Regions from separate parts of the Homo sapiens genome. Here regions 1 and 3 are each linked to region 2. Evidence: fine-mapped expression QTL. A gene starts in region 2. Each other region holds a variant in brackets. All regions are shown on one strand. Distances are from middle to middle. Region 1 overlaps CCDC62 (coiled-coil domain containing 62). Region 2 holds the start of DENR (density regulated re-initiation and release factor). Region 3 overlaps CCDC62 (coiled-coil domain containing 62).

The links.
Region 1: its variant is fine-mapped to the expression of DENR in fibroblasts (GTEx, PIP above 0.99).
Region 3: its variant is fine-mapped to the expression of DENR in whole blood (INTERVAL, PIP 0.99).

Annotation. Positions count from the first base shown.
Region 1 is chr12:122,788,729-122,791,491 of GRCh38, forward strand. It overlaps CCDC62 (coiled-coil domain containing 62), which reads left to right. Exons shown (of 13, transcript NM_201435.5): 5 at 30-201. Among named protein-coding and RNA genes, the nearest start is that of CCDC62, 16 kb to the left of the region's middle. RefSeq lists an enhancer at 1,175-1,728. The variant A/G (reference allele first, on the strand shown) is at 1,205.
Region 2 is chr12:122,751,801-122,754,563 of GRCh38, forward strand. DENR (density regulated re-initiation and release factor) reads left to right here and starts at 1,024. Exons shown (of 8, transcript NM_003677.5): 1 at 1,024-1,150; 2 at 1,893-2,007. The coding sequence starts at 1,902. RefSeq lists enhancers at 1-381, 1,473-1,532 and a silencer at 1,283-1,332.
Region 3 is chr12:122,815,188-122,817,950 of GRCh38, forward strand. The region is part of intron 11 of CCDC62 (coiled-coil domain containing 62); the gene reads left to right. Among named protein-coding and RNA genes, the nearest start is that of HIP1R, 19 kb to the right of the region's middle. The variant T/A (reference allele first, on the strand shown) is at 1,624.

The DNA.
Region 1 (2,763 bases), 37 kb after region 2:
GGATAACCATTTTCAAATTTGGTTTTTAGGACAAAGATATTATTGAGGCAGTTAATCACATTGCAGATTGTTCGGGTAAATTTAAAATGCTAGAGCATGCCCTACGTGATGCCAAGATGGCGGAGACTTGTATTGTGAAAGAAAAGCAAGATTATAAGCAGAAATTGAAGGCACTTAAGATTGAAGTCAACAAACTAAAAGGTAAGGAAGAGACCTACATTTAAGATACAAATGTATTATCTTGGGAATATAGTTTTTCATCTGGGTTCACTTAATCTTATGCTTGAGAGTAGATCAATTCCTGGCCTTAGACCCTAACGTGAAATATCCATTTCATTTATATAGGATTATGCTGCAATTTGTGTCTTATAAGATATATAACAGAGTTGGGGAAAACTGCAGAATGTATCATATTTTAAAGTAATCCTGCCTTAGTTGAGGTGGCTGTACCATTAGCTATCGCTAATACATGCTTTGTGGCAGACAACATCAGTATCTCAGTGGCAGACAGTCGTAGCATTTATTAAACCCACATGTCTAGAGGCAAATGGGGGAGTTGGCTGACTGTGGTTGGGCCTCACTGAGCTTCCCATCTGGGCAGTTTTGGCTCACACATTTCATCGTCTTGCTATCAGGCTAGCCTGGGCATTTCTTCCCATGGTGAGGGCAGAAACTTCTGATTCTGAAATTAGGAATTTTTATTTTTGCCGATTTATTTATTTTCGACAGAATCTCACTCTGTCACCCAGGCTGGAGTGCGGTGGTGCAATCTTGGTTCACCACTGCCTCCACCTCCTGGGTTCAAGCTATTCTCCTGTCTCAGCTTCCCGAGTAGCTGGGATTACAGGCACCTACCACCATGCCTGGCTAATTTTTGGATGTTTAGTAGAGACAGAGTTTTGCCATGTTGGCCAGACTAGTCTGGAACTCCCGACCTCAGGTGAATCCCTCTGCCTTGGCCTCCCAAAGTGCTGAGATCTACAGGCGTGAGCCAACACACCCAGCCGATCTTTGCTGATTTAACTTAAAAGATTCAGCATTCAAAAATGTTGTCCTTATGATGCCTTGACCTATGGTTAGCCATAGGTCTTATCTCCATTTGTAGCTTCAGCTAAAACCATAATCGTATTATCATCCCCTTGACAGCAGGAACAGACTCTGCTTCTCTTTTTCAGTGTACTGTTAATAGCATGGCACAAGGGCT[A/G]CACTCTAGGTATTTGGTATTTATTGAATGTTTATATACACCGAGGTAAAATATTCAAGTAGAAAGAAGTCTGTTCTGTCAATATTTATATACTAAAAACATTTTATAAATTCAATATTAAAACTTTTTTTTTTTTGAGATAGTGTCTTGCTCTGCTGCCCAGGCTGGAGTGCAATGGCGTGATCTCAGCTCACTGCAACCTCCACCTCCTGGGTTCAAGCAATTCTCCTGCCTCAGCCTCCTGAGTAGCTGGGATTACAGGTGGGTGCCACCATGCCCGGCTAATTTTTGTATTTTTAGTAGAGACAGGGTTTCATCATGTTGGTCAGGCTGGTCTCAAACTCCTGAGCTTGTGATCCACCTGCCTCAGCCTCCCAAAAGTGCTGGGATTACAGGCATGAGCCACCACACCCAGCTTAAAACTTTTTTTTTAGAAAAGAAAAATAGTGGCTGGGCATGATGGCTCACATCTGTAATCCTAGCACTTTGGGAGGCCAAAGCAGGCAGATTGCTTGAGGCCAGGACTTCAAGAAGACCAGCCTGGATAACATGGCAGAACCCTGTCTCTACAAAAAATTAGCCAGGCATGGTGGTGTGATCCTGTAGTCCCAGCTACTCGAGAGGCAAAGTGAAAGGATTTCTTGATCCCAGGAGGTGGAGGTTGCAGTGAGCCAAGATTGGCCACTACACTTCAGCCTGGGCAACAGAGCAAGATCCTGCCTCAAAAAAATAAAAAAAAAGAAGAGGAATTTTTATAGAGCTCAATCTCCAGCCCTCCCTCCCCTTCCTGGAGGTCCACAAGTGGGACTGCAGGTTCCAGCCCTGTCTTCACTTGGTGTTTCTGGTGGCTGTCTGCATCCTGAGGCCACGTAGGAGCTCCACCCTGAGTCACCTCGTTAGCATGTAGTCTGGTGTAATCAACTGACTCTTCATGAATGACAAAAGATGCTTCTGTCACTTAGGAAATTCCACAAGTTTTAGGAGCTCTGTTCTCCAGGAACAGAGGACAAAAACCACATCTATTTCTTCTTATACCACAGACATACTCAAGGAACAGAAGGAAAGGAGGGAACGGCGGTGGGGAGATGGGCAGGTCAGGTCATGCTGGGCTCTGCAGTTTGTGGTAATGGATTTGGATTTCATCCTCAGTGCAGTAGCAAGGCTTCTCACTGAGAAATGACACGAGCAGATTTTTATTTTTAGTTTTATTTATTTATTTATTTTTGAGACAGAATTTCACTCTTGTCGCCCAGGCTGGAGTGCAATGGCGCGATCTCAGCTCACTGCAACCCCCGCCTGCCTCTCAAGCAATTCTCCTGCCTCAGCCTTCTGAGTAGCTGGGATTACAGTCGCCCACCACCACACCCAGCTAATTTTTGTATTTTTAGTAGAGACGGGGTTTTACCAGGTTGGCCAGGCTGGTTTCGAACTCCTGACCTCAGGTGATCCACCCGCCTCAGCCTCCCAAAGTGTTGGGATTACAGGTGTGAGCCACTGCACTTGGCCTTTATTTTTATTTTACTTTACTTTTTTTTGAGATGGAGTCTCACTCTGTTGTC
Region 2 (2,763 bases):
CAGTAACAATCTGATCTTTCTTTTCCCCATATATTCCCATACTCTTACATTTTTCTTTTTTTCATTAAAAAAAATTGTAGGCCGGGCGCGGTGGCTCACGCCTGTAATCCCAGCACTTTGGGAGGCGGAGGCGGGAGGATCCCTTGAGTCCGGGAGTTCGAGACCAGCCTGGACAGCATAGGGAGATTCCCCCACCTCTATAAACAAATTAAAAATTAGCTGGGTGTGGTAACGCGCGCCTGTATTCCCAACTACTTGGGAGGTCGAGGCTGCAGTGAACCGTGTTTGTGCAACTGCACTCCATCCAGCCTAGGTGACAGAGTGAGACCCTGTCAAAACATAAAGAAAAGGATGAAGGAAGGGAGGGAGGAAGGAAGGAAGGGAGGGAGGAAGGAAGGAAAGAAGGAAGGAAGGGAGGGAGGGAGGGAAGGGGAAGAAAGAGACAGAAAGAAGAGAAAGAAGAAAGAAAAGAAAGAACAGAAAAGAAAGAAAAAAGAATTCCTTTAATTTAGTGTATGGTGTTAAAACGCAACCAAACGCTCCATCCGGCGAAGAGAGAGAGAAAAGAAGAGAGGAAGGAAAGAAGGAAGGGAGGGAGGGAGGGAGGGAGAACACCTTCCTTTAATTCAGTGCATGGTGTTAAAATGCGACCAAACGCTCTATCCGGCTGCAATCTCCCCGCACGGGAGTGATTTATGCAGTAGCTGGAGGTTAGTCAGGACTCCAGGATGCACCGCAGACACCGAGGCGATGATCCTCGGACTCATTAATAGGGAGTCATTTGTGACTCAGGTGCGCTCTCTGCGTCTGCAAGTCACGTTCCCTTCGGCACGCCCATCTCGAGGATTCATCCTCTCCAACGGGTGACGAGCACCGCCTGCCGGCGGCCCGCCTCTCGGCCTCTTGGCCACGCCCCCCACCGGAGGGCAAGGCGCACGCTCCGCAATTTTTCTCCGCCCCCGTCTTCCGGCTTCTCGCGACATCCGCCCAGCGGCGGCCGGAATCTCGCGATAAAGGCTCATTGTCTCGCGGGAGCGCTGCTGGCGGTCGGGCGCTCGGGCGGCCCTGGCCGGGGAGACGAGTTGCATGTGTTGGTTCAGCTGGCGATAGCGGCGGGAGCGGAGCCGGCGGGGCCTGTGCGACCGCCTGGGTAACGACCCCAAGTGCTTCTCCCGCTCCCGAGAAGCTCGTAGAGAGTGTGGGGGAAGCTGAGATGCTGCCTGGCGGAAGGGGGCCGGGCCGGGCCTCTCCACACCCCCGCCCACAAGGGCCCCTTCTGGCGTCCCCGGGGTTGCTCCTTCGCCTCAGACCTGGTCGCCCTTGTCCCCTCAGTGCTCTTACATTCTGCGCTCGTTTTCTCTCCTCATCCTTCTTACGCTCTGGTTACCCCGCCCCCTCCCATGCCCTTTTTAGACTCCCCAGGCCCCTCTCATGGCGTTTAGTTGCCCCCACACCCTGCACCCCGGGCTTCTCCGATGACCCACCCCTTGTTCCTAGGCACTTCCAGCCTCTCTCCATTCGGCGCCTTTGTAGCCCTTCTCTCACTGCAGTTTGCATCCCTCCCAGATCACCCTCAGACCTTTTTGCTCCGTGTCTGCCGTGGGTACTCACCCCATCTTTCCTTCCCCATTGCTTCCTGTTTTTCTCTAGTGAGTCCCTCTGCCCCATCCTTCATGGTCCATTTGCTGCTTGCTTCCCTGTAGACCTGTGGAGCAAGGAGATGTTGTGCCTGGGATTGCTCATATTTTATGAATCGAATGCAGCTTGTATCCCCCACTCAACAACAGACTTGAAACAGCTTTGGGGTGGGGAGGTTTCTGTTGAGAGGAACACTGCTCTTCTGGGGTCTTGATTCTAAAATAGTGAGGGTGTGTTATTTTCCTTGCTTACAGGTTTGTGAAATGGCTGCTGACATTTCTGAATCCAGCGGGGCTGACTGCAAAGGAGACCCAAGGAACAGTGCCAAGTTAGATGCCGATTACCCACTTCGAGTCCTTTATTGTGGAGGCAAGTGTTGGTAGCCACAGAATGACTTTTACTCACTATACTTTTATGCATTGTAATAACAGTTTGACATTTGGTAAGCTTTCTTCCCCATCCTTTTCATTTGGTGAGTTTGTACTGGGGGAGAGGAGTCCTGGGGAGGAGGAGGCATGAATTAACAGAGTTTCCCCACCTGGGTGATTTGTGTCTGGCTACTCTGCCTGAAGAAGCTTACAGTCCATTTGTAACAGGATGTGCAACTAGGTTATTTCAGCCTGAAGGTCCTCAAGGTGTATGCTAGTCTAGCTGTCAAAGGAGGGCTTCTTGGAAGATTATGAGTTAAGGATGGCAAGGACTGGATGAGAAGGTGGGGAACGGCGTCCCAGACAAAGCGCACGACTATGTAAGAAAAAGCTTGATGGCTGTCTGTGAAGAAGTGAGCAGCTTTGAGTTTGTCTGGTGTATCGTATAGGGAGGGTGGCCCGTTAAGGAGTGGGAGAAGGTGAGGTTGGAGTGTTGGGTGGTAGGACAGTGAGGAAAGTCTTCTTGGTTTGAATCATGATATATGTATTAGGTTTAATCAAGATCTTTTTCACTTTCGAGTGTTTTTCTTCATTTTCAATATAGAAATATTTGTGAATTGTAAATGCTGTATGTATTCGCATCTTGGAAACTTTCAGAAAAATCTGAAGATACAGGACAGTAAAAGGGCAAGTAAATATTTTTTCAGTAAATATTTCTCAGAACTTACTGTGTGCCTAGTGATGTTTTAGGTGCTGG
Region 3 (2,763 bases), 63 kb after region 2:
CCCACCTCAGCCTCCTGAGTAGCTGGGATTACACGTACACGAAACCACACCCAGCTGATGTTTTTATTTTTTGTAGAAACAGGGTCCCACAATGTTGCCCAGGCTGGTCTCAAACTCTTGGGTTCAAGCAATCCTCCTGCCTCAGCCTCCCAAAGTGCTGGGATTATAGGCGTGAGCCGCTGTGCCTGGCCTGGCTTTTCTTAACAGTGTCTTTTAAAAAGCGAAATTTAAAATTTTGATTACTTCCAACTTAACAGGTTTTTTTTTTTCTTTTTTGAGACGGAGTCTCGCTCTGTCGCCCAGGCCTTGGTGCCAGTGGCGCGATCTCGGCTCACTGCAAGCTCCGCCTCCCGGGTTCACGCCATTCTCCTGCCTCAGCCTCCCGAGTAGCTGGGACTACAGGCGCCCGCCACCACACCCGGCTAATTTTTTGCATTTTTTGGTAGAGACGGGCTTTCACCGTGTTAGCCAGGATGGTCTCCATCTCCTGACCTTGTGATCCGCCCGCCTCAGCCTCCCAAAATGCTGGGATTACAGACGTGAGCCACCACACCCAGCCTATTCTAGTAGTTTTTTTGTAGATTCCTTAGGATTTTCTACACAATCATGTCATTCATGAATAGAGACAGTTTTATTCCTTTTTCCAATATTTATGCCTTATTTCATTTTCTTCCCTTACTGCTCTGGCTAGGACCTCCAGATGAGTGTTGAATAGAAGCAGGGGAGCAAACATCTTTGCCTTATTTCACGAAATGCTCTCTGATGGCAATTCTTGCTTAGTCCTTCAGATTGGTATTTTGTTAGATTCAGAGTTCCCTGGAGCAGTTTCTATGTGCCGCGAATAGATCCAAAACTAGAACATTAATCATTTTAGAATCAAGATGCTCACTGCCATGAGCCTAAACAGGTAGTTGCAGAGATTACCTTAAAGCAGAACAGGATCCAAAACTAGAAATTTTTCAAAGTATACCATGTGTGCCATATAAACTTTTCAAAGTGGAAACCGTGATGGACTCTGGTGTTTCCTAGGAAGATTTCTTCTTCACAAGCTGTCTCTGAGGCATTAGTGAAGCGTTGCATTTATATTGGGGCAGAGGAAGGTTTTTAATGACAAAACTATTTTGGTGCTTAGCTATCCCTTTAAATGTATGCAGTGAGGCTGCTTCTTCCCCTGTGTCTGGGGAGAACCTTTATGACTTTTCTAGTCATTCTTTGGCAGCTATTTCTTTAAAATACATTTTTTTAATTGAGATATAGGCCAGCCATGGTGGCTAATGCCTGTAATCCCAGCACTTTGGGAGGCCAAAGCAGATGGATCACTTGAGCCAAGGAGTTTGAGACCACTCTGGGCAACATTGAAAAACCCCACCTCTACAAAATAAAAAATTTTTTTTAATTAGCTGGACACACTGCCATGCACCAGTAGTTCCAGCAACTCAGGAGGCTGAGGTAGGAGGATCACTTGATCCTGGGAGGTCAAGACTGTGGTGAGCCATGATCTTGCCACTGCATTCCAGCCTGGGTGACAGAGTGAGACCCTATATCAAAAAGAGAGACAGAATTCACATTTTATTATTTACATACAATTCACCCTTCTAAAGTGTACAATTTGGTGGTTTTTTT[T/A]AAATCATATTAATAAAATCGTGCAGCCACTACCGCTATCTAATTCTAGAATATTTTAATCACCCCAAAAGGAGACCCCACATCCACAGCCACTGGTTACCACAATCTACTTTCTGTCTCTATGGATTTGTTGGACAGATAATTTTAATCAGAATTTGTTGACTAGAATTCATGGGATCCATGAACTTTGATGGAATAAAGATTACATGCCAGTTTATTTTTATTTTTAAATTTTATTTATTTATTTATTTATTGTTTTGAGACAGAGTCTTGCTCTGTCACCCAGGCTGGAGTGCAGTGGTATGATCTTGGCTCACTGCAAGCTCCACCTTCCGGGTTCACACTATTCTCCTGCCCCAGCCTCCCAAGTAGCTGGGACTACAGGCACCCGCCACCACGCCTAGCTAATTTTTTTTTTTTTTTGGATTTTTAGTAGAGATGGGGTTTCACCATGCTAGCCAGGATGGTCTTGATCTCCTGACCTTGTGATCCACCCGCCTCGGCCTCCCAAAGTGCTGGGATTACAGGCATGAGCCACCATGCCTGGCCTATTTTTTTATTTTTATTTTATTTTTGAGATGGAGTTTCACTCTTTCCTCCACTTCCTGGGTTCAAGCGATTCTCTTGCCTCAGCCTCCTGAGTAGCTGGGATTACAGGTGTGAGCCACCATGCCTGGTTAATTTTTTGTATTTTTAGTAGACAGAGTTTCACCATGTTGGCCAGGCTGGTCTCAAACTCCTGACCTCAAGTGATCCTCCCAACTTGGCCTCCCAATGTGCTGGGATTACAGGCGTGAGCCACTATGCCTGGCCCAAATTCACGTTTTCCAAACAAGCATTATAGCAACAGATGTCTCCTCCTTGTCCTCGTGGCTTCAGGTTGTTCTCTCAACCTCTTTGTTAGGGTTTTATGTCAAATTCCTGAGATATAATCAATCACTCCCTCATTTTTGTCCTGCTAGTGTAGCTCTGTGTGTGTGTGCCTGCACATGTGTGTGTGTGCATGCATGCGTGTGTGTGTGTGTATCTGCCTCCATCAGAGTGCACGTCAGGTAGCCAACAGGTGACTGCGTCCATGACTCCTGCTCACTGTGAACGCCTCAGGACCCTTCTCCACCTTGGCACCCTGGCTGCAGCACC